Linked DNA regions of Homo sapiens. The protein of the gene in region 2 binds, or shares a complex with, the protein of the main gene of each other region. Each region holds a gene or a part of one and is shown on either strand. Other genes may lie near its edges.

Region 1 (7,022 bases), on a different chromosome or scaffold from region 2:
CTAACCATTTCCCTGGATCACTTTAGTCTTTTTTTTTTTTGTAGAGAGAGTCTTGCTTTGTCGCCCAGGCTGGAGTGCAGTGGTGCGATTTTGACTTGTTGCAAGCTCTACCTCCCTGGTTATTCCCCTGCCTCAGCCTCCCAAGTAGCTGGGATTACAGGCACATGCCACCACGCCCAGCTAATTTTTTTGTATTTTTAGTAGAGGCAGGGTTTCACCATGTTGGCCAGACTGGTCTCGAACTCTTGACCCCAGGCAGTCCATCCACCTTGGCCTCCCAAAGTGCTGGGATTACAGGCATGAGCCACTGCACCCAGCCCACTTTAGTCTTTTCTTATTCTCTAACTTGTCTCTTTTTTTTTTTTAGGTGTAGTATTGAGTCCTGTTTGAGCTATTGTTCTCTTTTTCCTGAAAAATGGCACTGTCAAAGAGGGAGCTGGATGAGCTGAAACCATGGATAGAGAAGACAGTGAAGAGGGTCCTGGGTTTCTCAGAGCCTACGGTGGTCACAGCAGCATTGAACTGTGTGGGGAAGGGCATGGACAAGAAGAAGGCAGCCGGTATGTACCTTTCTGCATCTTTTATCTTAACATATAGGGTGACCCCAAACACTGCTTTGAACTTCCTCAAAATTCTCTCTGTTGGGAACATCTAAAAAAATGGCAGGCCATATTTTATTTTCACCTGTATTATAGTGAAAATAGGCTAAATAATAATTTGCTTTTTCTCTTAATTGCTTATTTTTTATGTTATTTATGATAGATTTTAAATCTTCGTTTGGCTACCATACTGAGTCACCTAAGTTAGATTTACTTAGGAAGTATGCTTAAGTCAGATAGGCATATTCAGATTCAGACTGAACATCTCAACATACAAAAATCTTTATGAAATACATGAAAAAGCTTGAAGGAGGTAGATTTTGTTAATGGTAGGCTTCTACAACTTGCTATTTGGGAAAGGTGAGGGTGGTTATTCATCTCAAACTTGATGTTCAAGGTAAACAGGTTGCTCTAACTGCACCACTTCCCACGCCAAAAAATTATAACTATTTTCACCTCACAGGGCAAGGTCATTTAGTGTAAGAGAGATGGGAATCCTACAAAAAACTTAAAATTTGTTTCACTCCTGGGAATAAAATTCCAGTGTTGGTACCTGTTATAGGCCTAGTATTAGACTGTGTACTCTTACCTTTCCAACCCTACCACCGCCTTTCTTCCTGTCAGATCATCTGAAACCTTTTCTTGATGATTCTACTCTCCGATTTGTGGACAAACTGTTTGAGGCTGTGGAGGAAGGCCGAAGCTCTAGGCATTCCAAGTCTAGCAGTGACAGGAGCAGAAAACGAGAGCTAAAGGTAGGTTACAATTTACTGTCTAATGAGCTCAGGACTGTTTTGAATGGTAACAGAGTTGCTGAGCTTACCAGTTCACACGTTGATATCCTCTATTTAGAGCAGCAAATGTTCAAGAGAGGTACTTAGACATTAGAGTAGGAGAGATGAATTAGTGTCATCACCATCTGAACTACCTCTAAGTTCATGGGTTGAAATATCCAAAGAAATAATTGGCAGCTTTGTCTTTTTTTAGATAACAGGAGTTTTGATTCTCATGTTTCTCCATATTTCCTTTTTTTCCTTCTTACTGTTACTTATAAACTGATTGCTCTAAGATTTTATCTTTGATTTATTTGAGGCCTAATAAGTTGTTTTAGAATGTGACTCCACTGGTACCTGAGCTGTACACCTCATTGTTGCCTCTTTGTAGAGGTTTCTCTGCAATGCACTTGTAGATAGAATACCAAAAAATAACTATTATTTATTATATTCTTGAGAGCTTACCATTTGCTCTATGGCATATTGCTGGTCCTCTGCTGCCATGAGTGAAACACTTGGAGGAGTTGTCAGTACCCCCTTAACTACTACACTTTTTATTCTGTAGTTGCCGACTGATCCTGGCCTCTTTCAGTATTAGCAGTATCAAGTAGCCTATTTTTCTACTCATTTCCCAGTATCTCTCTTTAGGAGAAAAAAAAAAGTTCTGTGACTCCTATCAAACCTTCCAAAGTTCTTCTGATACCTTGGCTATCCCATTACTTTTCCTGAGGGAAAAGAGTGAATAAGTAATGTCTGCTTGGTCCCCTGGCCAGGCTATGGAACTAAAAAAAAAAGCAGAGAGATTTGTGCCCTTTGTGTTTGGAGCATTGTAGGGTGGTCAGAGAAGGAGAGATAGTCCTTGCCTTAAAACAATTTGTAATTTGTCAGGCAGTGTGGCATGTGCCTGTAATCCTAGCTACTTGGGAAGCTGAGGCAAGAGGATCTCTTGAGCCCAGGAGTTACAATTTAGAAGAGGCAGGGGTATCACAAAATATATATTCACGTATTATAAAATCTAAGTAGCAGTTTCATGTAAATTTTAGGGTTGGTTATAGAATTTCAGACCTATGTTGAATTTTGTTATATTTAAGGTGGAATGATTGATCCACAGTATACACAGATCTGTACAGTGAAGATTATGTCACGATAGGGCATACTTCTTTTTTTTTTTCCTTTTTTTTTTTCTAAGGGTGAGTCTCACTCTGTCGCCCAGGCTGGAGTACAGTAGCGCAATCTTGACTCACTGCAACTTCCACCTCCCAGGTTCAAGTGATTCTCCTGCCTCAGCCTCCTGAGTAGCTGGGATTACAGGCACATGCCACCATGCCTGGCTAATTTTTGTATTTTTAGTAGAGACGGGGTTTCATCATGTTGATCAGGTTGGTCTCGAACTCCTGACCTCAAGATCTGCTCGCCTCGGCCTCCCAAAGTGCTGGAATTACAGGCATGAGCCACTGCGCCTGGCCAGTAGGGCATACTTCTGTATGAGTGCTGAGGGCATGCTGTGAATGAAGTGACTACATTGGGTGGGATTAATAAAAATGGCTTCTTGAAGGAGGTGTCTAGATAGCCTTGGGATACGGGTCCCATTTTTGGTCCATTCAGGTCCCCACCCCACACAATATATTATGGGAGAGTCCTTTTTCTTGAACTGTAGGAGTTCCAGGAAGCGCTCGCCCCTGGCCGAGGATATGTCCTTGCAAAACACGAGCCCTCCTAGTGAAGAGGGGATGTCACCCAAAGCCTACCACCGGTGTGTACATTTGCTTTTTCCCATTGTCCCTTCCAGTTGGCCACTCTCGGTCCTGTTAAATTCACCTTGCAAATTAGTCATCATATTTGAGTTTCCATTGTTTGATGAAAACAAAGTGTTAATGGGGATTACTGAAGAAGAAAGAGAAAGCCCCTGTCCTGGAAGAGCTTAGACTTAGTTGGGAAAACTATACTAACATTGAAATACTTAACACTTGGCAAACAGAATATCAACAATGTAATTTAACCTAATATGAACCAAGCTCTTACACGCTAAGAGAATGTGAAACAAAAGTTTAATCAGAGTGGGATAGGTTATAATGAGGAAAACTTCTTGGAGGAGGTGAGTTTTAGGCAGGATTTGGAACAGGGGTTGTGGAAAAGTTGAGAGAAATCATTATAAATGTGAGCAGTAGCATTTGCAAAGACCTTGAGATGGGAACATTTATAAGAACATGGGAATGAAATTTGTTTGACTGGATTAGGAGAATGTTGAAGTTGGGTGAGATGGAGAGTCTAGTAGACCCTGCTTCTGGCAGGTGGCTATTTGCAAGGTTGTGTCATATTCCCCTGGGAATAGCCAGAAAATGCTGGTAGGGGCTAGGATAATTCTTCCCTTCTCCCCACGGGGAGGGATACAGCTTTTCTTTCATCTTGGGTTCCCTTAGGAGGTGTTTGGTGATGACTCTGAGATCTCTAAAGAATCATCAGGAGTAAAGAAGCGACGAATACCCCGTTTTGAGGAGGTGGAAGAAGAGCCAGAGGTGATCCCTGGGCCTCCATCAGAGAGCCCTGGCATGCTGACTAAGCTCCAGGTTAGTGATTAGGGACTGGAAGCAAAGTGGTTTTGTGAGTTGAAGAAGCAAAAGGTGCATGGGTCTGTATTTATTGTGGAATTTTTTTTTTTTTTTTTTTTTTGAGGTGGAGTTTTGCTCTTGTCACCCAGGCTGGAATACAGTGGCGCGATCTCAGCTCACTGCAACCTCCGCCTCCCGGGTTCAAGCAAATCTCCTGTCTCAGCCTACTGAGTAGCTGGGATTAGAGGCACCCACCACCAAGCCTGGCTAATTTTTGTATTTTTAGTAGAGATGGGGTTTCACCATGTTGGCCAGGCTGGTCTTGAACTCCTGATGTCAGGTGATGCACTCACCTTGGCCTCTCAGAGTGCTAGAATTACAGGAGCGAGCCACTGCGCCCGGCTAATTTTTTGTATTTCTTTTAGTAGAGACAGGGTTTCACCATGTTGGGCAGGCTGGTCTTCAACTTCTGACCTCAGGTCATCTGCCCACCTTCGCCTCCCAGAGTGCTGGGATTATAGGCGTGAGCCAGCGTGCCTCGCCTTATTGTGATCTTGATTTGAATTAGTGTTTAGCATTTGGGGTAAACTTTTTTTTTTGAGATAGAGTTTCACTCTGTTGCCCATGCTGGAGTGTAGTGGCGTGATCTCAGCTCACGGCAACCTCCACCTCCCAGGTTCAAGCGATTCTCCTGCCTAAGCCTCCGGAGTAGCTGGGACTACATGCGAACACCACTACGCCTGGCTAATTTTTGTATTTTTAGTACAGATGGTATTTTGTCATGTTGGCCAGGCTGCTCTGGAACTCCTGGCCTCAAGTGATCTGCCACCTCAGCCGCCCAAATGGCTGGGATTACAGGTGTGAGCCACCATGCCAGGCCAGCATTTGGGAAAATTTTATTTCCTGCTTTATGTTTTAGCGTTCTTTGATTTGACCAGGAGTATTCTAGGTAAGGGTATTGAAATTGCCATTTACTGTGGCAAGCAAAGTGTGTTATGTACATTATTTGCCTAATTACCTATGTCGTTGAGTCATTGAGAAAATTAAATGAAATGATCAGAACTCATCTTAATGACAGAGGAGACTCTCCAAACATAATGCAAAGAAGATATAATCCACTGATAAATAATTTTAAGTTGACTTTATTTTTTTTTAACAGGAAGTATTTGTGTTTTTTCAATTGGCATTGTTAAATAATACCACATAAGTGTTTCTTTTACCATTTAATATTTGAGGGGGGTAATAGAACATATACAGAAATATGGGTGGGTGGATTTGCATATATGTGATATTTACAGAAGGAAAGAAATGGATTTTTTTTGTGTGTGTGTGTGAGATGTTCTCTCTGTCACTCAGGCTGGAGCGCAGTGGTGCGATCTCGGTTCACTGCAGCCTCTGCCTCCCAGGTTCAAGTGATTCTCCTGCCTCAGCCTCCTAAGTAGCTGGGATTATAGGCATGTGCCACCACGCACGGCTAATTTTTGTATTTTTAGTAGAGACAGGGTTTCACCATGTTGACCAGGCTGGTCTGGAACTCCTGACCTCAAGTGATCTGCCTACCTTGGCCTCCCAAATTGCTGGGATTATAGGCGTGAGCCACCGTACCTAGCCTGTTTTTGTTTTTCAGGCAAGGTCTCACTTTTTTGTCCAGGCTGGAGTTCAGTGGCGAGATCTTGGCTTACTGCAACCTCTGCCTCCCGGGCTTGAGTGATCCTCCCACCTTGGCTTCCCAAGTAGCTGGGACTACAGGTCACCATGCCTGGCTGATTTTTGTATTTTTTTTAAAGATTGAGTTCCACCATGTTGCCCAGGCTGGTCTTGAACTCCTGGGCTGAAATGATCCTCCTGCCTCAGCCTCCCAAAGTGCTGGACTTACAGGCGTGAGCTACCACGCCCAGCCAATTATTTTCTTTTTTGGGGGGTGGGGGATGGAGTCTTGCTCTGTCACTTAGGCTGGAGTACGGTGGCGCGTTCTCGGCTCACTGCAACCTCTGCCTCCCGGGTTCACGCCATTCTCCTGCCTCAGCCTCCTGAGTAGCTGGGACTACAGGTATGTACCACCATGCCCGACTAATTTTTTGTATTTTTAGTAGAGATGGGGTTTCACCATGTTAGCCAGGATGGTCTTGATCTCCTGACCTCGTGATCCACCCGCCTCGGCCTCCCAAAGTGCTGGGATTACAGGCATGAGCCACCGTGCCAGGCCCAATGATGTTTTTTATGGAGAATGGGGATGGACGTATTCACAACATATCCTTTTGTTATGTTTCTTTCTTTTTTTTTTTTGAGACGGAGTCTCACTCTGTCGCCCAGAGTGGAGTGTAATGGCGCTATCTCGGCTCACTGCAACCTCCGCCTCCCGGGTTCAAGCTATTCTTCTGCCTCAGTCCCTTGAGTAGCTGGGATTACAGGCACGCGCCACCACGCCTAGCTAATTTTTTTGTATGTTTAGTAGAGACGGGGTTTCACCATGTTGGTCAGGCTGGTCTCGAACTCCTGACCTCGTGATCCGCCCGGCTCGGCCTCCCAAAGTGCTGGGATTACAGACGTGAGCTGCCAGGCCCAGCCTGTAATTTTTCATTTTATTTTATTTTATTTTTTGAGACGGAGTCTCGCTCTTGCACTGTTGCCTAGGCTGGAGTGCAATGCCGTGATCTCAGCTCACTGCAACGTCCGCCTCCTGGGTTCCAGCAGTTCTCCTGCCTCAGCCTCCTGAGTAGCTGAGATTACAGAACGTGCATCACCATGTCCAGCTAATTTTTGTATTTTTAGTAGAGATGGGGTTTCACCCTGTTAGCCAGGATGGTCTCGATCTCCTGACCTCGTGATCCACCTGCCTCAGCCTCCCAAAGTATTGGGATTACAGGCGTGAGCCACCACGCCCAGCCCTGTAATTTTTAATTTTTTTATTTTCTTTCTTTCTTTACTTATTTAGAGATGGAGTCTCCCCCTGTTGTCCAGGCTGGAGTGCAGTGGCATGATCTTGGCTCACTGTAACCTCCACCTTCTGGATTCAAGCGCTTCTCCTGCCTCAGCCTCCTGAGTAGCTGGCATTACAGGCGCCCACCACCACACCCGGCTAATTTTTGTATTTTTACTAG
Region 2 (7,022 bases):
CATGCACCACCATGCCCAGCTAATTTTTATGATTTTAGTAGAGATGGGGTTTCACCATGTTGGTCAGGATGGTCTCAATCTTTTGACCTCGTGATCTGCCTGCCTCGGCCTCCCAAAGTGCTGGGATTACAGGCGTGAGCCACCGCGCCCGGCCCAGTATCATTTTTTAATTGCACAAAGGTTGGCGTCATGATAGACTGTCTAACTGCCAGCGAAGTGTCTAGCGGAGGCAGAGCCTGTCGCCTGTAAGGAAGGCCATTTAGGGGTCTGGGAACTGTGGGCTGAGGCCCGGAGGTGGTGGTCCATCTCAGGGCAGAGCTACACCTCCTGAGGGGCCCATGGCGCAGGGCTCCAGGGCTACAGCCAACCTCTAGCCTGTCTCTCTTCTAGTTGGTGGAGCTGAAAAATGGGGAGACGTACAATGGACACCTGGTGAGCTGCGACAACTGGATGAACATTAACCTGCGAGAAGTCATCTGCACGTCCAGGGTGGGTGCTGCACCCACCAACGGGGGTGGGATGCAGGGGGTGCACACTCAGCCTCCTCCCTCCCTCCCTGGGCCTCATGGGAGGAGTCAGTGGGGGAGGCCGCCTAGGACTGCTCGTCCTTCCAGGGGTCAGTCAGGAGGGACAGGGCAGGGTGAGCTAGGCCACCAAGTCTCCCAGTGTGCCCTGGACTTTGACCCTGTGGGAGACTTTCCTGCTGTGTGTCTGTTGGTGCCACCCCTGACCTGGAAGGACCTAGGACTGGGGACTCCCTGTGGCTCAGGCTGGGGCAGCCCCCTCCAGGGGAGGCCCAAGACTCCCGGACTCTGCTGCCTTTAGTCCAGCCTGGATGTTGCCTGCACTCTGCGGGCCATGGTAGTGTGGCCCTGGGATGTCCGGGATGCCCAGGTCACGGTGGGCAGGAGCAGCGCCAGGGCCCGGTGGGTCAGGAGCCACCAGCCAGAGCCCAAGACCGGAAGTGCCTGGCTAGGAGTGCTGCTGGGTCGGCCGGGGCTGGAAGATGGTTCCCCTGGTGTCACGGGCCTTCCCTGCCCCTGGGATGACCCACAGAGCACTGAGGAGGAGGCCAGGGATGGTGCTGAAGGCAGCGGCTCCCTTGGACTCCTCCCACCAACCTTCCCTGACCCCATCTGTCTTGTCTCCCTGTGGGTGACAGCCCCCCATGGTATAGGGAGGAAACTGCTGGGGAGCTTGGAGTGCCTGCCTGGGGTCACCTTGACAGGACAACAGGGCTCGAGGGGGGAGGCGCTTCTTCCTGAAGTGGCCGTATCTTGCCCTGACCGCCACCCCCACCCGGGACTGGGCCTCTCATCAGCACAGGGCTGGGCGGGGTGGGGACAGGTGGTGAGGCTGCTGTGCAGCAGCGCTAGAAGCTCTAGAAACTGCTTGCTGGGTTTCGTGCCATAGCCTGTCGGAGGGCGTCTGGGTGGGTCCAGTCTGGCTGTGTCGGATGGTGCCTTGGTGCAGAACCGCGTGCCTCCCATCTGCGGCCAGCGGGGCTCTGTCCACTTCCGGTATTGGAATCACCAGGCGTGTTGCGTGCGTGAGCATGTGCGGTCTTGTGGACACCTCCAGGTCCTAGACATGAGAAGCCTGTTGATTCAGAGGCTGCGTGGTCTCCAGGGGTTGGTTTGGCCTCTGCCTCCAGCTTCGAGTGGACGGATGGCTTTCCCTGAGCAGCCTGCCTCTGTGGCCAGGCGGTGATGCTGCCGTCACATGTGGCTGGGAGGAGAGGCGATGGGAACTCACATCGTCCCCATCTAAGTGGGGCCCTCCCTCCCTCAGAGGCAGGCCGCAGGATGCAGAGACCCCGGGCTGAGAGACCTCTGGAGCGCTGTGGGCAGGAGGCAGGGGCCTCCCTGCAGTGAGCTCAGGCCCTGCCCAGGTTCCTGCACGAGGAAGCCTCTGGGCCCTGCCTGGGAGAGCTGGGCGCCAAGTCACCTGCCCAGGCCCTGAGTCCCCACAGAACCATGGTGTGTCCGCCCCACGAGCCCTCGAGGGGTTCCTGGGAGAGTGAGCACCCAAAGGGGCTGTTCCTCCCCGCCCAGCGCTAGGCCAGGCCACACCTACCCAGGTGTGGAGGAGAGTGTCTGACAGGAGGACTTGGGGATTCGGGCAGGTAAGGCCTTTTGGGGTCAAAGTTAGCCAGATGAGAAGTGGGAAAACCACGTGCAAAGTTCTGGGGGCAAGCCCATGGCGTGTGTTCCGGAAACAGAAAGTTCCATCTGGAGGGAGTGTCGTCGGGCTGGGAGAGGACCGCCAGGGCGGGGCAGGATCTCGGGCCCTAGAGAGCCCTGCTGAGGTTCTTAGACCTTGCCCCCAGGCTGGAGGGGGCCCTGGGTGGGTTCCAAGCTGGAACATACTGTGATCTGACTTTAAAGGGCATCGGGGGCAAAGGCCATCCAGGCGTCGTGCGTGGGTCTGTCCAGGAACCTGGGCGGTGGGGCGGGGCTGGGAAACTGATATGGTAGGAATGGCCCTGGCCCCTGCTAATCCCTCGATCTGTCCCAGTGGGGGCCTCGGAGGCATTGCAGCATGAGTCTGTGTCTTTGCAAGGCCCCCATTTCTCCAGTCTTGGTTAGCTCTCCTAAAACTGGCATCGCTGGGAGCCGCCCTTGAGCCACCCTGGCAGGACCCAAGTCCCCCCATTTCCCGCCCCTCTTCACCCACCACACTAGGCCTGTAGCTTGCTCGCATGTCCCTGCACCCAGCGCAGGCCCTGTCAGGAGATACTTAGATGAATGAATGAGTCAGGGCATGTAGAGAGGCTTCCAGAAGTGAGGTGGGGCTGGGGCAGGAGGAGGAGTAGCTGGGCTTCGGCTGTGTCTGGTGCACAGGGAGGCCCCCACCCGCTCTGGGCTTTGGGCTGCAGGTGAAGAACCCCAACCAGAGAGAGCCCCATCCCAGGCTGGAGGGAGCCCCAGTCAGCCACTCCTGAGCCAGGCCCACGGGCAGAGGATAGGAGCCAGTCTTCCTTGTGAGTGCACAATGGGGGCTGCGCCTACCACACCCACCCTTGCTCCTGGGTGAAGGATTGCCTGGGGTCAGGACAGATCCTGCCTGCAGGGTGGACCCTTTGCCACGTATGTCCCGGGACTGATACTGTGCAGCTTGCAGGGGTGGTACGGGGTGCAGGCTGGGCAGGATCTGCAGGGCCTCCCGCGCTCCCAGGGCTGGGCCAGACGGCCCGGTGGTAAGTTAATAACCTGCTCCCCTTCTCCGCAGGACGGGGACAAGTTCTGGCGGATGCCCGAGTGCTACATCCGCGGCAGCACCATCAAGTACCTGCGCATCCCCGACGAGATCATCGACATGGTCAAGGAGGAGGTGGTGGCCAAGGGCCGCGGCCGCGGAGGCCTGCAGCAGCAGAAGCAGCAGAAAGGCCGCGGCATGGGCGGCGCTGGCCGAGGTGGGTCTCCCCTCTCCAGTGGACGTACCTGGGGCGGGAAGACAGCCACACGTGGCATCCCTCCTTCTTGGGGTTGCCCTTGCAGCGCTGCCTCGGAGCCTCCCAACCCTCCCGGGCCCCCCTCCTGGTCCTTGGCCATGAGCCGAGGCCCAGGCAGAGGAGCCCCGAGACCTGGGACTCAGCCCTCCTCTCACTGCGCCTCCTGGCGGTCCTCAGGGCACATCAAGTCACCTCCCCAAGCCTCAGTTTCCCCTCTGAGAGGGTATGGTGGTGCCCATCTGTCCAGGCCGCTGGCAACTCCACTTGGAACCTGGCGTGGCTCTATCCAGAGCCAAGGTCGCCCGCCCCCACCGGAGATGATGAATTGGCATAAAATTCCATTTGTTAGGCCCAGGGGCCATCTGTAGCCCCTGCCCTTCCTCACCTCTCTGTCCCCAGCTCTGTGTTCTCGGGGGGACCTGGGCTTTGCTTCTGCCATCCATGGGCACTGCCTGTGTGCTGGGCTCAGGTGCCAGCCTGGGGGCTTGCAGCACGGCATGGCTGCCCCCGGAAGGCCCCAGGCGCCAATTCTGTGCAGGCTCACGAGGTGGTCAGGAGTGAGCCCGAGGGAGGGGCAGGGATAGTACTCCAGGCAGGGAGCTTTGGGGATCTCAGGGTGGGTGGGGCCTCTGGGGTCCCCGGCCTGGCTCCTTCCCAGTAGTTGGGGTCAAGGTTGTTGAGAGAGTGGGTCGGGTCCTACCTAGGGAAGTGGGGGGTTTTCTCTGGCTGCTCTGCAGGAAGCCACTGGGCCATGGAGTGCAGATAGCAGCCTCGCAGTAACCCCCACCAGGCTGTGCACCCTAGCACAGCTGGTCCTGCCTGGTGAGAGGGGAGGTTGGTGGCCCAGGCCAGCGTTGGCCTCTGGCCTCTGTCCCCACAGGGCCTGGTGGCCCCTGGCTGGTGAGAGCCCTGACCTCTTAGATCCTCTGAATCTGGACCCCTGACCCCACCTTCACGGGGTTGAGGTCTGCAGAGTAGACCGTGATTCCAGTTCCTGTTGGGGTCAGTCCTCCTGTCCCCAGACCTCCCTGGCCCACGACTGAGCCTCCCAGCGGGCTCTGTGGAGGGCCTGAGCTATGCTGCCTGCAGCGCTGGCCTCTGGCCCCTGGCACCCAGCACATGGGCCACAGGGCCAGCTCCTCTTGCTGGCCTTGGCTCTCCTGCTGTTTGAAGCTCCAGCTTTGATTTCCTCAAGCGTTCGTCCAGCTAGAAAGTTCTCTGAAACGGCTCCCTAAACGGGGCTTACAGAGCTGGGGTCCCCAAGGGAGACAGAGAGGGAGGGATCAATGTTGGGTCCCGGCCTGACCAACCTGCTGCGTCCAGGCCTGGCCTGTGGTGAGGGTGGCGTGAAGGGGCGCCAGGCACACAGAGGGTGTGGGGACAGGCGTGCCCTGCGTGCAGCCTGCTCAGGATTACTGGAGGTGCCGCTGTAGCGTCCACTCAGTCCCTGGGGCCCTCATCTCCCGGGAACCCCCTGTCACCTCCCCAGTGGCCACATGCTCCCACCTCAGGGGCTTCATGGAAAATGTCATTTGTCCTCATGGTCTATCTCTGGCCTCAGGCCTGCTGGGGAGTCCCCTCCCCTTCCCCATCCCTGGGGCTGGATACACAGAAATCCCTCTTTCTGTTTTCCTCCTGGCAGGTAGATGAGGGGCTGTGGGTGGTTGTGGCGCATAGGAGGCCCCCCCCCCGCCAGGGAGCCCCCAGCCTGGCCTACTGCCCTGGTCTCTGCTCCACGCCTCTCCTACCTCCTCCTCCTCCTCCAGGAAACCCTTCTGGCTTTGTCCTTTAGGAAGCCTGCCCCAACCCCCAATGTGACTTAGTGTCCTCTGTCGCCTAGTCCCCCCCCCCCGCATCCCTGGGGGCTGGGTCTAGTCCCATAATGAGGATGCCCTGGAGTTCCTGCCTTCCTCAGATGCTCTGCCCCACGGAGGAGATCCAAGCACCCTCAGTCACCACCTCACACATGAGGAAGCTGAGGCTGGAGACTTAGGTGACCTGGCCTAGAGTTTCAGGGCGCCGGGATCCTGTCGAAGGTCCCACCCACCTGGCTCTGCTGCAGCGCCCTCTCTCTGTCCTCTAGGTGTGTTTGGTGGCCGGGGCCGAGGTGGGATCCCGGGCACAGGCAGAGGCCAGCCAGAGAAGAAGCCTGGCAGACAGGCGGGCAAACAGTGAGCGCCCACCCAGACCGGCTGCTGCGCCCCCTCCTGCCAGGGTGGCGATTCCGCTCCACAGTCTCGGACGGATCTGCTCAGAAAGGAAGAGGCAGGCGCCAGGGGGAACCCCCTTCGTGTTTTGTGACCCTCCCTTTTAGGTGAAGCCCCTTTTTCTTGCTAAAACCGGCAATTCTCCGGTTAGAAATGTTACTTGGTGTTTTTTGGTTTTGTGAAACGGCCGTCCCAAAACTGGCTGGATTCCTAGAAGAGTCTGTGTTGAAGGCATCTTTCAAGCCCTCGCTCTGGTTCTCAGGGCAGCATTTTCCAGGCGGGTTTGTTTTGCATTTCTTGGAGCCTCTCCGAGCAGCAACCAGACGGGAGATTTTTATTTTAAGCTGTTCATGCTGGGACTGACAGCCTGCAGGGTTTCCTTGGGCGCGGCCCCAAAATTGCCTTCAAAACAAACCCGGGACGGTTGAAAGCCTTCGAACCGTGCAGGGGATGCCTCGGGCCCTGGCCCTTCGCTTCCTCTCTTGTGTTATGGAAATAAAAACAAATAAAACTACACACTGCACATCCACTGTTCCTTTTGAGCTTCTGGGTGCACCTAGCGGGTCTCCTGCCCTCTGTCCATCGCTGGACTCTCAGGAAATCCCCGTTCCCGTAAGGGAAGCTTCCTTTTGAGAGTTCTCACCAGGTGTCAGCGGCACAGTGAGGCACTGATGTCCTTTTACAAAAGGCAAGACCAGCATCTGGACAGTGGGGGCTCTTGAGAGTCCCCGGCGCCCCCCACACCAGGTTGTCCTATAACCCTCTCCCCTCTGTGGAGACGTTAATGCCAAGGGGTGTGTGGGGAGGGAAGTCCCAGGCAGGGGCCACGCATGGTCCCCATCACCCCCTCCTGGGTGGCCTGGACTCCATCATCTATCCTCATCTGTCCACACTGGCGTTCACACAGAGAAGACAGGACAGGAATCCCCTCGGAAGATGCTCATGGAAGATTCTCACGAGGCTCCTGCCCCCTTTCTGAGCCAGGCCGGGTTTGCCACTCCTCGGGCGCGCACCTGAGACACTGAGTCAGCGCTTTCGAGAAAGGCTCCGGGTAGCATCTGTGGACCGTGAAGAAACCAGAGGGAAGCCCTGAGCCAGGCAGCGGCCCGTCCCCCTGCATAGCCTTCTCTTCAGGGTCCTCGTTCGGAGACCTATTTTGAGAGGTGATTGGAATAAAAGGTCCCGTCCGTGAGGAACTCTTTTTCTTGAGTCTTCAGAGTTACTTGCCATCGTATAGATTTTGCATTTACAATGTCCTCGCCTGGGATGTTCTCCTTGTGTGTGGGGTGGGGGACAGGGATGGATATCTGCAGTCGCCTGAATCCTCTCCGCCACAGCGGCACTTGATTGATGGTTAGAGA
Region 3 (7,762 bases), about 36 Mb from region 2:
ACGGGTTGGGGTGAAACAAAAAAAAAAGAAGGCTCTGGAAAAGGCTGAGAAGGAGATATACCCAGCCACAAGCAGCCAGGGAGCCAGGGGGCCTGGCAGGAGAGACAGGAGATGGGGAGGGGCACAGAGTGGGAGGAAGCACCTTCTGAAGCTTTGGCTTGCTTGCTGATATACTCCTCAATCTTCATCATAATCTCAGCAAACTGTAGGAAAGGAGAAGACAGTCAGAATCCAGCACTCTTCAAAAAGAAGCCTGTATCACCCCCTTCTGGGAGATTCTGTCTAGAGCCCCCTGCTAGGAACACCTCTTGTCCTCTTACCATCTTACTATCCCATAGCTTGGCGATGGTCTTGACTGAATCCCCGGAAAGATCCAGCTGTGTCTCCTCCTGCACATCCTCGATCGCTGGCTCCTCTTCTTCCTCCCCATAGCTTCCTCCTTCCTCCTCTTCTGCTGCCTCTTCGAGATCAGCTAAGAGCTCATCTGCCAGAGACATCCCGAGGCCTGGGGAGGGACAGCAGCGTTCCCTAAAAACTTGCCCCGACAAAGTCCCTCCTTATTACTGAGCGATGATTCTCCCCCAGAAGACCCTGGTCCTTCTTTATCAACCCCACTAGCATGCAGGCTCCACGACAACAGGTGCTTTAGTTTGTTTTGTTCACTGGCGAGTCTCCAGCTCCGACCTGTGCAAGACGCAGCACACCCCTATGACCGCCACCTTGCTAAGACTTACTGGAACCAAGTGGTGTAGATTCCAAATGCATTTGCAAACTTTCTTATTCCTTTCTTGCCTTTAGCCTTGAAAACATACTTTGAAATTCTTTGTTTCCCTCCTTTCCCACTAGATACTGTCTTGCACTGCTGGCTTATCTATGTGCTTACTTAGAAGTTCCAGGGGCTAATCTTTATTTATTTATTTTTTAAAGATGGAGTCTGGCTCTGACACCCAGGTTGGAGTGCAGTGGCGCAGTCTTGGCTCACTTGCAACCTCCACCTCCTGGGTTCAAGCGATTCTCCTGCCTCAGCCTCCTGAGTAGCTGGGACTACAGGCACCTGCCACCATGCCCAGCTAATTTTTTTTTTTTTTTTTTGTAGAGTCAAGGTTTCACTATGTAAGCCAGGCTGGTCTTGAACTCTTGACCTCAAGTGAGCGACCCACCTTGGCCTCCCAAACTGTTGGGATTACAGGCGTAAGCCACCGCGCCTCGCCGCAGGGGCTAATCTTGAAACAAACTAGGTATGGAAACCCAGCTGCAAAACTCCAGAGATCACCTCAAGGCGATCAATCTACAACGTGGCCATTGTTGACTTGACACCAGCCCATGCTCCAGGTGGCCCGTGACTCAAGACAGCCTTCGGAGCAAGACACACATACCTTGTACCCAGCACCACTCCTGTATGCCTCCCATTCAAAGTTCCCCTTTTTAAGCCCCTCTCCCCAGCCTAAAGCTTGAAATGGTCTTCTAAAGACATTAGCTTGGCCATTTCTCATCTGCGAGCATTTGATCAGTAAAGCTGCTTTACTTTCACCACCCCCCACTTCCTCTGCCTCTGAGTAGCAGAAACTTGAGTTGGTTACATTATCGGTCTCTTCCCGCCTCCAGGTCTTTGTACAGGAGTCCCTTGTAACTAAAGTGGCCCTTTCCTTCACTTTGTTTTTTCTTTTCTTTTCTTTTTTTTGAGACCATGTCTTGCTCTGTCACCTAGGCTGCAGTGCAGTGGCGCCATCATAGCTCACGGCAGCCTCGATCACCTGGGCTCAAGCGATTCTCCCGCCTCAGCCTCCCGATAGCTGAGATGACAGGCACGCACCAGCACGCCCGGCTAATTTTTAAATTTTTCTGTAGAGACAGGGTCTCACTGTGTTGCTCAGGCTGGTCTCAAACTCCTGGGCTCAAGCGATCCTTTCGCCTGGGCCACCCAAAGTGCTGGGATTACAGGAGTGAGCCATGGCGTCTGGCTCTCCTCACTTCTTAGTAGCCCAGCATCTCCTCAGCCTTCAGCTCTCACGTTCCACCTCCCTGACCCACACGCCCCACTCTAGACTACAGGAGGTTGCTTTGTGATAACGTGTCCCGCACGCTCTGCGTGTCTACAGTAAGGCACTTCACACATTTGTGATTAATGAAGTAATTATTTGATAAAGCCTGTCTGCCAGGCATCAACCAAAGCTCTAAGAGGGTAGCGAACAATTTTTGCTCCTTCCACATCCCCAGGGCCACACCATGGTAGGCGCATATTAAGACTTTTGGGTAAACAGGCTGTAAAAGGCCGGGAGCGGTGGCTCATGCCTGTAATCCCAGCACTTTGGGAGGCCCAGGCGGGTGGATCATCTGAGGTCAGGAGTTGGAGACCAGCCTGGCCAACATAGTGAAACCCCGTCTCTACTAAAAATACAAAAAACTAGCCGGGCGTGGTGGTGCGCGCCTGTAATCCCAGCTACTCGGGAGGCTGAGGCAGGAGAATCGCTTGAATCCGGGAGGCGGAGGTTGCAGTGAACCGAGATCGCGCCACTGCACTCCAGCCTGGGCAACAAGAGCGAAACTCCGTCTCAGACAAAACAAACAAACAACTGGCCAGGCGCGGTGGATCATGCCTGTAATCACAGCACTTTGGGAGGCCGAGGCGGGCGGATCACGAGATCAGGAGTTCGAGACCAGCCTGACCAACATGGGGAAACCCCGTCTCTACTAAAAATACAAAAATTAGTCAGGGGTGGTGGCGGGCGCCTGTAATCCCAGCTACTCTGGAGGCTGAGGCAGAAGAATCGTTTGAACCCGGGAGACGGAGGTTGCAATGAGCCGAGATCGCGCCACTGCTCTCCAACCTGGGCAACAGAACGAGACTCCGTCTCAAAACAAACAAACAACAAAAAAACAAAAACCAAGCTGTAAAGACCCGCCTTTTTCCTCACACACTTCTTCTCCCAGACCCAGGAGCCCAGCCTCCCGCTCCCCGTGGTCCCCATCACACTCACCTCTCCTCTCCGCGCACCACTGTTTCTAGCGTTAGTCGCTCACCGATGACGTCTCACTCTCGCGCCGTTATAGAGGCAAAGCTACTCTCTGATTGGTCCCCGCTCGCGATGTTCCTGGCCGCATTTGAAACAACAACTTTATTAGCACCTGGCACTAGGCGGAGAGAGGCGGTAAGCCGCGAGGAGGAAAGGGACTCACGTCCCGCTGTGGACCGATCCTGCTAAGCAGAGAATCGCTGTGGCCGGACGACGGGGCGTCGAGACAAGAAGAAAGACGTTGGCAACTCAGAGGACTGGTTGCGGCGTTAGACAAGAAAGCAAGGCCTTTAAGCAGGGATTCGGGGTGGACGTGGGGGTGGGCCGAAGCGAAGCCGGAAACAGGAAACTACAACTCCCACAAGGCCTAGGGCCACGTCCCGCCGTCCTCGGCTGCTGAGCCTGATGGGACAAGTAGTTTTGCGAACGGCTTAACCTACAGATTGAAGAGGTCGGAAGCTCTGAGGCCCGGGGCTTCCGGAGGTCGCGGAGATGGAATTGGAGCAGAGAGAAGGGTATGTGGCTGAGCCCTTGTGAAAAAGTGCGAATCCCAGAAAACAGTGCAGCTGCATTGTGTGCAACCATATGAGCTTTTACGCTGAGGTCTGATGGGGGTTGTAGTTCATGCAACTGCTTTACCTTAGAACCCTTTTATGGACTGGGGTCATCCTGAGGGAGGAGAAGGTTAGGGGTTTGGACTGCTGGATCTGACAGACTAGGAGGTTGGAAGCCAGGACTCTTGCGTCTGGTTGAGGGTTGGGGCTTGGACTCCCTGGGTCCTTGGAGAGAAAAAGTCTGGAGGTCTGGACTCTTGCATCCTGGGAGGAGGGGGTCAGGGCTTGAACCCTGTGGGTGCTGCGAAGGGTGGGTTGCGGACTTGGACTTCTGGGTCTGAGGGAGGAGGGCTGGGAGCTGGATTCTACGGTCTGAGGGAGGAGGGGCTGGGGGCCTGGATTCTAGGATCTCAGGGAGGAGGGGTTGGGGTCTGGGCTCCTGGTTCAGTGGGAGAAGGGGCTGGGGGTCCAGGATCCAGGGCCCCTGAGCCTTTCCCTGCCTCTCAGGACCATGGCAGCCGTGGGCTTTGAGGAGTTCTCAGCGCCGCCAGGCTCAGAGTTGGCGTTGCCTCCCCTATTTGGTGGCCACATCCTGGAGAGCGAGCTGGAGACGGAAGTGGAGTTTGTGTCAGGTGGTCTGGGCGGCTCAGGGCTCCGGGAGCGAGATGAAGAGGAAGAGGCAGCCCGGGGTCGGCGGCGGCGCCAGCGGGAATTAAATCGCAGAAAGTACCAGGCACTAGGTCGGCGCTGCCGGGAGATCGAGCAGGTAGGTGAGTGCGGATCCCCCGGTTTTGGGGTCCCCTGGCCTAAACTACCGCCCCCCGCAATCTCTGCCTTTCCACATGCCCAGCCTTTCTTGGCTTGCTGATATATTCAGTCATTTAGCTTATATATTCAGTCATTTAGCATGCATTATGTGTCTGGCCCTGTGCCGGGCCCCTGGAAGGGCCATCTCCCGTGGAGCTTCCCTGACAACGCAGATGGGTTCTCTGATGTCTCCCGGGGGCCTCTCAATGCGTGGCACCGCTCACAGGTGAAAGCCCAAGCTCTTCACATCTCCCATACCCCTGCCAGGATTCACTCCTCTCGACTCATTCATTCCGCCTCTTGAGTGTCTCTGGACCCTTCTCCTCTCCTCCATCCCTATGGCTGCCATTGCAAACTCCAGCTGTCTGGGCTGAATGACTGCAATAGCCTCCTTGCTGAGAATAAGGATGGGCTGGGCATGGTGGCTCACGCTTGTAATCCTAGCACTGGGAGGCTGAGGCAGGCGGATCACCTGAGGTTAGGAGTTCGAGACCAGCCTGGCCAACATGGTGAAACCCCATCTCTACTAAAATACAAAAAAATTAGCCAGGTGTGGTGGTGCGCACCTGTAGTCGCAGCTACTAGGGAGGCTGAGGCATGAGAATTGCTTGAACCCGGAAGGCGGAGGTTGCAGTGAGCCAAGATCATGCTGCTGTACTCCAGCCTGGGTGACAGAGTGAGACTCCGTCTCAAAATCAATCAATCAATCAATGAGGATTAAACAGCAGGCAGGGCTCAGATCTTGGCAGGCCAGGAACACCAGGACAAGAAGTCTGGATATTTTTTTTTCCTTGAGAGTGAAGGAGCCACTGAAGGGTTTCAAATGGGGGAGGAACAGCATCAGGTCTGGATGCCTGAAACTCTGAAGACAGTTGTATTAGTCTGCTTGGACTCCCAGAACTTATCACAAATAGGGTCCCTCAAGCACAGAAATTCCTGTCTGACAGTTCTGGAGGCTAGACATCCAAGGCAAGGTGTCGACAGGGTTGTGAGAATCTTCCAGGCCTCTCCCCTGGCTTCTGGAGGTTTCTGGCAGTCATTGGCACGTACAAACATCACCCTGATCTCCGCCTTCATCTTCACATTGCTGCTCCCTGTGTGTGTGTCTGTGTCCCAATTTACCCTTTTTATAAGGACTCCAGTCATACTGGATTAGGGCCCACCCACTGGCTTCATTTGAACTTGATTACTTTTGTAACGACACTGTCTCCATATAAGGTGATCCTGAGGTACTGGGGGTTAAAGCCTCAACACCCTCTTTTGGGGGAAATAATTCAACTTTTTTTTTTTTTTTTTTTTTTTTTTTTGAGGTGGAGTCTCGCTCTTGTCTCCCAGGCTGGAGTGCAATGGCACCATCTCAGCTCACTGTAACCTCCACCTCCTGGGTTCAAGTGATTCTCCTGACTCAGCCTCCCTAGTAGCTGGGATTACAGGCGCCCGCCACCACACCCAGCTAATTTTTCTATTTTTAGTAGAGACAGGGTTTCACCATGTTGGTCAGGCTGGTCTCAAACTCCTGACCTCAGGTGATCTGCCCACCTCAGCCTCCCAAGGTGCTGGGATTACAGGCTTGAGCCACCACGCCTGGCCTTCAACTCTTTTTCTCTTTCTTGAGACAGGTTCTCACTTTGTCACCAAAGCTGGAGTGCAGTGGCGCAATCTCAGCTCATTGCAGCCTCAGTCTCCCAGGTTCAAGCAGTCCTCCTGCCTCAGCCCCCAAAATAGCTGGGACTACAGGCACACACCACCACACCTGGCTAATTTTTGTACTTTTTGTAGAGATGGGGTTTTGCCATGTTGCCCAGGCTGGTCTTGAACTCCTGACCTCAAGTGATCCACTCGCCTTGACCTCCCAAAATGCTAGGATTACAGGCATGAGCCACCACATCTGGCCTCAATTCTTAATGACAGTATTGGGGAGTTCTGTAAGGAGGAAGGCTAGAGGCCAGGGGCATATTCCAAACCCTGTTTAACAGACAGACACCAAGGCCCAAACGGACTCAACTGGAGCCTCTGCCATTAATCCACCCCCAGGAATAGATTACTACTATTTTACAAGTATAGAAAATCAAGGCTCAGAGAGGTTAAGTAATGCACCCAAGCTCAGAGCTCAGCAGTGGCAGATCTGAGATTTTTTTTTTTTTTTTGAGACAGGGTCTTTCTCTGTTGCCCAGGCTGGAGTGCAGTGGCATGACTGTGGCTCACTGCAGCCCCAACATCCTGGACTCTAGCAATCTCAGCCTCCGAAGGAGCTGGGACTACAGCCACCAAGCCCAGCTAATTTTTTTGGTTAGTTTTTGAGTGTTGGGGTCTCACTCTGTTGCCCAGGCTGGTGTCGAACTCCTGGCCTCTCAAAGTGCTGGGATTATAGGCATGAGCCACTGTGCCAAGCCAGAGCCAAAACTTGAACTCTTTTTTTTTAGATGGATTTTCGCTCTTGTTGTCCAGGCTGGAGTGCAATGCTGCAATCTCAGCTCACTGCAACCTCCGCCTCCTGGGTTCAAGCGATTCTCCTGCCTCAGCCTCCCGAGTAGCTGGGATTACAGGCATGCGCCACTACACCTGGCTAATTTTGTATTTTTAGTAGAGACAGGGTTTCACCACGTTAGGCTGGTCTCAAACTCCTGACCTCAGGTGATCCGCTCGCCTTGGCCTCTGAAAGTGCTGGGATTACAAGCGTGAGCCACCGTGCCTGGCACTTTTTTTTTTTTTTTTTCTTTTGAGACAGAGTCTTACTCTGTCACCCAGGCTGGAGGGCAGTGGTGTGATCTCGGCTCACTGCAACCTCCAGCTCCTGGGTTCAAGCGATTCTCCTGCCTCAGCCTCCTGAGAAACTGGGATTACAGGCATGCGCCACCATACCCAGCTAATTTTTGTATTTTTCTTTTTTTTTTTTTTTTTTTAGTAGAGATGAGGTCTCATCATGTTGGCCGGGCTGGTCTGCAACTCCCGACCTCAAACTCTTGAGTAGCTGAGATTACAGGCATGTGCCACAACATCCGGCCAATTTTTGTATCTTTAGTAGAGACGGGGTTTCACCATGTTGGCCAGGCTGGTCTTGAACTCCTGACCTCAAGTGATCTGCCCGCCCCGGCCTCCCAAAGTGCTGGGATTACAGGCGTGAGCCACTGTGCCCCGCCCGGAACTCAGGTCTTTCTGACCCAGGAGCAGCACCTGCTTCAGCCACTGTCTTTGGGTCCCTGTTTGGCTGAGTCACATCTCTCCCTCCATGTCTAGGCTGGAGTCCTCAGAAGCTGCGTGCAGGGCTGTCCCCTCAGCCTGGCATACTTTCCTCCTGTCACCCCTTTGTCTCCTCCTTATTCAAGTCTGGGCCCACGGGCCTTCTCTGCAGGTCGTAACTAAAGTCGCACCTCCTGCCCTAACCTC
Region 4 (7,022 bases), on a different chromosome or scaffold from region 2:
GCGGCATGTATTCACATTTTTAACATTTTTTCTTTTAATAGAAATACGTTTATTATAGAACATTTTTATTCCCTTCATTTTTCCCTTCTGTTTATTTGTAAATAATATTTACTTGTCCTCCATTCGTAAATGTTTTTTAAATTTAAAACACAAATATGTGTTTTATTAGGAAAAGTTAAACAGCACAAAAATATATAGAGTAAAAAGTGAAATCCCATTTCTTCTACTGGTAATCACTACTAAAAATGGGATTATCTTGGCCAGGTGCAGTGGCTCATTCCTGTAATCTCAGCACTTTGGGAGACTGGGGCAGGAGGATCACTTGAGGCCAGGAGTTCTCTGTGTTGCCAGCCTGGGCAACATAGAGAGACCCTGTCTCTACAAAAAATAAAATTTAAAAATTGGGTTACCTTTTCTGTATGTTTACACATATACACTCATATATGTACATGTGCACATACTTGCATTATGTACACCCTACCTCTACAAAACATGGATCTTGCCATACATGTTTTTCAGTACCTTTTTTTTTTTTCACTTAATCTTTCTTGGAAATTGATCATGAGTGCATTTAATTTTCGTTTATTCTTTTTAATGACTACCTAGGATTCTGTATATGATAGTGATCGATTTTTTTTCATTTCTTGCTACAAATACGTAAATACTTGCAGTAAGCATTTTTTTACATATTTCTTTGTGCATATCTGCAAAATATCTGTAGAATTGGTCCCTTGAAATAATCCCATTTGTTCATAGAGAACCCTGAAGGTTTTGCCTCTCCTTAATGACTTGTTACTTTCCTAAGTGTGTTGTTTTTAGTATTGCTACTCTACCCTAAAGTGATTAAAAATAGCTAACATTTATTGAGCATTAATTATAGACCAGGTACTATTATTCTAAGCATTTTGTGTGTGATATCTCATTTAATCTTTATAACAACCCTATGATGATACATACTAATTATTCCTGCTTTGCAGTGTAGGAAGCTCAGGCTCAGAAAGGTACAGTCACTTGACGGTAAAGGGAGAGCCAGAATTTGAATCTAGGTTGTCTGACCTGAGCCCCACTCTTAAGTACTGTGGTTCCGCCTTCCACAAAACCTAAAGATAAAGAACCTCTGGGCTTGGAAAGGAAATAGGGACCCAGGGAGACAATCTACAGCTGGCCTTAAAGGAAGAGAGACTCCAGGAAAGGAATGGTGGTAACTTTGGGAATACAAATGGAATTGAGTTTAATTACTTAAGTTTGTGGCTCTTGGAGGCTTCTTCAGTTCCCTGTGTAAACTTGATGGTCTCTATCCTAAATGGCCCCAACTTTCTGTTTGTTTTGTGCCTCTCAGCTATACATGTTTGATCTTGTTAGTGTGCCCTGCTTAGCAGTTCCCCACATGGCTGACAAGTGACTTTTATTTTGATGTGAGCAGGTGAACCATGTAACACGTTGTTAGAAGTAAACTTGAGTTCTGAACAAGGTCCCAGAAAGTGCACCTTTTAGTAAAATGAATGAACTTTGGAGCTTGGATTGAATATCTTAGCTGTAACATTTATTGATTGAGCCCACAGGTACTAAACACATTTAAGTTCTGGATAGGTTAGAAATGGGCAGGGTGTTGCTCTACTTACTTTCTCTCTGCGACATGTGGTCTACTGTGTGCCTTTAGAAGACTGCAATGGCATTATCTTACCAGTAAACAAAGGATTTTATCTTCTTTACTGTATTTTTCTTGTCAGATTGTTATAGGTGAAATTGAAGGATGTCTACTGATAAATGATGAAGATGAATCTGCTGTTTTTCATAATTAAATATTATAAATGATGTGACTGCCTTAGATAACAAGTGGGGTGGAGACTTTAAAAATAATTTCAAGTGATTTGAAGTAAATTTATTTTTGGCAATATAAGCAGTTTTATATTTTTATCAGGTCAATTAAGTAATCATTGGAAGTGACTTGTGAAGAAACAGTATATTAGTACTGTAGGATTACTTTTTATTTGCATGTAAAAGTTTGTGATGTAAGTATCAAATGCCCTAGTTGTAATTGAGCAATTTGCATATTGTTAAGCCTTTATCATTTTTGTAATTTGATTATTAAATTTCTTGGTTCTGTACCCTCCCACTTTAGGCTTATGATCAACATTTAAATATGATCTTGGGAGATGTGGAAGAAACTGTGACTACTATAGAAATTGATGAAGAAACATATGAAGAGATATATAAAGTAAGTCATGCAATTCTATTCATTGCTTTGCAAATATCAGCTGTTCTCTCTCGAACAGCTTAACCCATATTTATGGGAAGCCTGTCATGTTTTGACACCTACTTATGGACTCAGTAGAGCATAGCAATTAAAAGCAAGGGTTCTGGCATCTGACAGACCCTGTTGCCAGTACTGGCTTGACCACTTCCTACTTGGGCTACCTTGGGCAAGGGAATTAAGTTAGCTGAGTTCTCATTGGTGAGCAGGAATACTACCACTTACCTCATAGGGTTCCCAGATTCAGTGAGATACAACAATGCAAGGTGGCTATGTATAATAGTGTGTAACAGTAATAGTGGACAGTGTTCTTTCGTTTTCTGTGGATTTGATCTATTAATACTTAATTTATTAGAAACTGAAACTGAAAAATTTTTTAAATATTTATTCATTAAAAAAACCTGGGCCGGGCGCGGTGGCTCACGCCTGTAATCCCAGCACTTTGGGAGGCCGAGGCGGGCGGATCACGAGGTCAGGAGATCGAGACCATCCCGGCTAAAAAAACGGTGAAACCCCGTCTCTACTAAAAATACAAAAAATTAGCCGGGCGTAGTGGCGGGCGCCTGTAGTCCCAGCTACTTGGGAGGCTGAGGCAGGAGAATGGCGTGAACCCGGGAGGCGGAGCTTGCAGTGAGCCGAGATCCCGCCACTGCACTCCAGCCTGGGCGACAGAGCGAGACTCCGTCTCAAAAAAAAAAAAAACCTGGCCAGGCATGGTGGCTCACACCTGTAATCCTAGCACTTTGGGAGGCTGAGGCAGGTGGATCACCTGAGGTCAGGAGTTCGAGACCAGCCTGACCAATATGGTGAAGCCCTGTCTCTGCTAAAAATACAAAAAATTAGCTGGGTGTGGTGGCATATATCTATAATCCCAGCTACTTGGGAGGCTGAGGCAGGAGAACTGCTTGAATCTTGGAGGCGGAGGTTGCAGTGAGCTGAGATTGTGCCATTGCCCTCCAGCCTTGTCAACAAGAGTGAAACGCTGTCTCAAAAAAAAAAAGGCTGGGTGCAGTGGCTCATGCCTGCAATCCCACCACTTTGGGAGGCCAAAGCGGGTGGATCACCTGAGGTCAGGAGTTCGAGACCACCCTGGCCAACATGGCAAAACCCTGTCTCTACTAAAAATACAAAATATTAGCCGGCCGTGGCGGCAGGCACTGGCAATCCCAGCTACTCGGGAGGCTGAGGCAGGAGAATCACTTGAACCTGGGAGGTAGAGGTTGCGGTAAGCTGAGATCGTGCTACTGTACTCCAGCCTGGGGGACAGAGTAAGACTCTGTCTCAAAACAAAACAAAACAAAACAAAAAAAAACCTATCACGTGTTACTGTAAGTAACATTTTTATGAACAATAACTATTTTCTAAAACAAAATTTTAATGAGGAATGTCTTTGTTTTACATTTTTGCAAATCTCTTTAATGCCCCGCTTAATCGATAACAGCTAGAAGATTCTCATATCTTTTTTCTGCGTTAAATCTATCATGAGTTGTTGTTGTAATTGAAGCAAATCTGACCACACAGATAGGTAGTTGGAAAGGAAGGAGTTTGTTTTGTGAATGTTCTACCTTTGATACTACACCCAAACTGAACAAGTGGTAGTCAGTCAAAGATTATTTGCCATCTGGAATCTGAAACGGTAACAGTAAACTTTTCGTACTCTTGTTAGGTGAAAATTCATTAATCTGCCTTGCACCTCAAATGGATCTCTTACTCATGCATGATTTGGTTACATCAGGCACTGGTTCTTTAGAAAATAGTAGTTCACTGGGCTATGCAGATTCATTTTATTTCTTCAGTGTTTAAAAAAAATCACATTTATTAGTTATCACCAGTGATCTTGTCAGAAAGGTCTTTTTTTTTTTTTAAAGACAGTCTGACTGTGTCACCCAGGCTGGAGTGCAATGTCAGTCTCAGCTCACTGCAGCCTCCGCCTCCCAGGTTCAAGCAATTCTCGTGCCTCAGCCTCCAAAGTAGCTGGGATTACAGGCATGTGCCACCACGCCCAGCTAATTTTTGTGTTTTTAGTAAAGACAGGTTTCACCATGTTGGCCAGGCTGGTCTCGAACTCCTGGCCTCCCAAAGTGCTGGAATTACAGGTGGGAGCCACTATGCCAGGCCGTAGCAGAAAGAAAGGTCTTTAAGATTTGGAAAGACAGTTTCTGACCCTGCCAGGGCATAGTGGTTAAAATGTGGGCTCAGAGTACAAGACTACATGGATTCAAATTTTGACTCCCTTGCTTACCACCTTTTTAATTGAGCCAGCTCACCTAACCTGTCTGTGGATATGTTTCCTTGTCTGTAAAATGGGAGTAATGATAGGACCCACTTCATACAACTGTGGAGGATTCATTGAGGGCTACATGAAAAGCCTTCAGATAGTGACAGGCACGTTGTCACTGTTAAACTGTTAGCCTTCACTGGATTTTGTAGTTCTGCTTTATCCTGGCTTTCCTCCTCTCTCTGACCACACCTGACTCCTTTGCTAGTGTTCTTTCTCCTTCTGAGTGTAAACATTTAGCATTTTTTTCTTTTTTTAAAATTTTTACTTATTTATTTATGTATTTTTGCTGGCTTATTTCTCCAAGAAAGAATAGCATTTTTTAAAATCTGCATTTTTTCCCCTTTAGGAATTTCATTTATTAACTATTGTTTAGTGGTTATTGTTTTCTTAACATGGACACAATCATAAGTACTAAGATGCACTTTTTCTTAAATTTTAGCATCTTAAAAATCTGATTGCATCTTACAGGTGATGTGATAAAAAAAGAATTGTGTCATAGTTTAATTGGCAAAATTTATCCTTTTTCAGCTCAACTAAGCTTACAAATGATACCTTAAATGTGATAAAATATGGAATATGTGGCTTTAATATTCTGCTTTATTCATGTAACATCATTAACATAAGAATTTTACCATGAGAGTAGACTCTTCATAAGCATTTTAATGCTCTTGTCTTGAATTCTGCTTGTGACAGAAATGACTCTTCAACTGTGGTGTCTATTACAGAGAAGGGAACACTGCCACTTACTCCATGTTTGCAGTGAACTAACAGCAGGGTCCACCTGTGTCATCCCTAGTAGTCTGCTCCAAGTGCGGTTCCTCCTGACACTGTTTGAAGGTGCTATGTGTCTGTGCACATGTGCATTTCTCTGGGTGGGGTGTCTGTAACAGAGTCTCAGTAGTTACTGACCTCCATTAAGATTAATTGCTGCCTTGAAAGGCTACTGGGGCTGGTTAGCTCCTGAACGCTGCGTGCTGCGTGCATGTGGCCTCTCTTGCGCCTAGAGTTGCAGCTGAGAACAGTAAGCAAAGTCTATTTAGTTAATGAGTTCTTTTTCACATTGCCATGATGTATTGGGTAAAACATTTAAAATTGAATCTTTGGATGACTGAGAATACTTTAGTGTGTAAATGTGTATTAACTATAGACATAGAAAGCAAAGACAGTGATATTATAGAGAGTGTCTGCATCTGGTTCAGTGCCATGGAGAACAACTACTTCACTCTCCTGTGCGCTCTTGTTACTCCTCTCCAAGATGGGAAACCAGACTAAATGGTTTCTTACCTTGGCCCATTTTACATTTCGCTCTCTCTCTCGTCTATTGAAATAACTAATGAACATCAACGTTTTACCACCAAAACAGTATGGGGGACCCATAAACCATCAGGTTGTTGGGTTTTTTTCCCCCTATAACTTACATAATTGACTTCTAAATAATTAATTTGGCTGCTGACTTATAAATGGGAAGGTGGAAAGCAGTCAGTCTTACTCTTCTGATTCTTGGTCCTCCATAATTGGAGTTTCCATTTTACAGATTGTGAACAGTCTGTGTTATTTGACCCAGACTACTTTTTCGGCTGTCCATCATGTGTACTACCTTCCTTCACCAAACACCTCGTAGTTTGGCTCACCAGACAGTTTCTCTTGGGGACGTTGTGCCCTTTTGTAACTAAGCCCTCTGCTCCCTCTGCTTGCCCGAAGGCCTTCTACAGCATCAGATGGCTCTTCTAGACCTTTCTGTAGATTAGCACTGTAATAATAGAACTGTCTGCAGCAGTGAAAATTTCTATCTATGCTGTCATTACAGGAGCTATGAGCCACATGTGGCTATTTGGCACTTCAAATGGATGCTGGTGTGATTAAGGAACTGCACATTTAATTTTATTTAATTTTAATTTAATGAGCCACCTGTGACTAGTGGCACTCATATTAGAGCAGCTCTAGACCTGCTCCCTCATACATAACTAACTCTTTATGGTCCATGCTGAGACCATATGGTCCATATCACCGTATAGTACTTAACACATATTTCTTTTCTTACTCATTTTAAATTGCTTCCATTTTAATTTAACTTTTTGAATAGATACTAGACTCACACAGTCTTAAAATTACAAAATGCAGAAAGGAACACAGTGCAGTAAAATGTCTTCCACTCCAGCCTCTGTTCATCATCTTTACACCCCACCCCCAGACATAAGCACTATTACTGGTTTCTTGAGAATCTTCTCGTGTCTTTATGCATATGCTAATGAGTGTTAGTTATTCTCCCTTCCCCTGTTTTTTTATCACAGTGCTCTTTCCCTTTCATACATAGCTTCCTTGTGCTTTCGTTTTTAGCTTTATGGTACTTCACTGTGTAGATGTACCATAATTTAACTGTTTTCCTGTTGATGGACAGATAGCCATTTCCAATATTTTGCTAGTAAAACCTATTCTGCTGTAAATAATTTTATCTTTATCTTTTTTTTTAATTATACTTTAAGTTCT

What was found.
Region 1: LSM4 (region 2) and PRPF3 share a complex: the UniProt entries of both Homo sapiens proteins name them as parts of the precatalytic spliceosome.
Region 3: LSM4 (region 2) and PRPF31 share a complex: the UniProt entries of both Homo sapiens proteins name them as parts of the U4/U6-U5 tri-snRNP complex.
Region 4: LSM4 (region 2) and LSM3 share a complex: the UniProt entries of both Homo sapiens proteins name them as parts of the precatalytic spliceosome.

The regions. Positions count from the first base shown.
Region 1 is NC_000001.11:150,324,528-150,331,549, forward strand, and holds part of PRPF3 (U4/U6 small nuclear ribonucleoprotein Prp3), read left to right. Parts: intron 1-367; 5' UTR 368-415; coding exon 416-560; intron 561-1,223; coding exon 1,224-1,354; intron 1,355-3,029; exon of another isoform or gene 3,030-3,125; intron 3,126-3,792; coding exon 3,793-3,939; intron 3,940-5,924; exon of another isoform or gene 5,925-5,971; intron 5,972-7,022. UniProt on the Homo sapiens protein: Plays a role in pre-mRNA splicing as component of the U4/U6-U5 tri-snRNP complex that is involved in spliceosome assembly, and as component of the precatalytic spliceosome (spliceosome B complex).
Region 2 is NC_000019.10:18,306,071-18,313,092, reverse strand, and holds the end of LSM4 (U6 snRNA-associated Sm-like protein LSm4), read left to right. Parts: intron 1-390; coding exon 391-489; intron 490-3,231; coding exon 3,232-3,415; intron 3,416-5,537; coding exon 5,538-5,629; 3' UTR 5,630-6,857; downstream 6,858-7,022. UniProt on the Homo sapiens protein: Plays a role in pre-mRNA splicing as component of the U4/U6-U5 tri-snRNP complex that is involved in spliceosome assembly, and as component of the precatalytic spliceosome (spliceosome B complex).
Region 3 is NC_000019.10:54,111,014-54,118,775, reverse strand, and holds the start of PRPF31 (U4/U6 small nuclear ribonucleoprotein Prp31), read right to left. Parts: upstream 3,023-7,762; 5' UTR 2,979-3,022; intron 536-2,978; exon of another isoform or gene 506-535; 5' UTR 498-505; coding exon 321-497; intron 204-320; coding exon 143-203; intron 1-142. Other genes in the region: TFPT (TCF3 fusion partner), read left to right, coding at 3,507-3,529, 4,076-4,334. UniProt on the Homo sapiens protein: Involved in pre-mRNA splicing as component of the spliceosome. Required for the assembly of the U4/U5/U6 tri-snRNP complex, one of the building blocks of the spliceosome.
Region 4 is NC_000003.12:14,181,815-14,188,836, forward strand, and holds part of LSM3 (U6 snRNA-associated Sm-like protein LSm3), read left to right. Parts: intron 1-2,122; coding exon 2,123-2,218; intron 2,219-7,022. UniProt on the Homo sapiens protein: Plays a role in pre-mRNA splicing as component of the U4/U6-U5 tri-snRNP complex that is involved in spliceosome assembly, and as component of the precatalytic spliceosome (spliceosome B complex).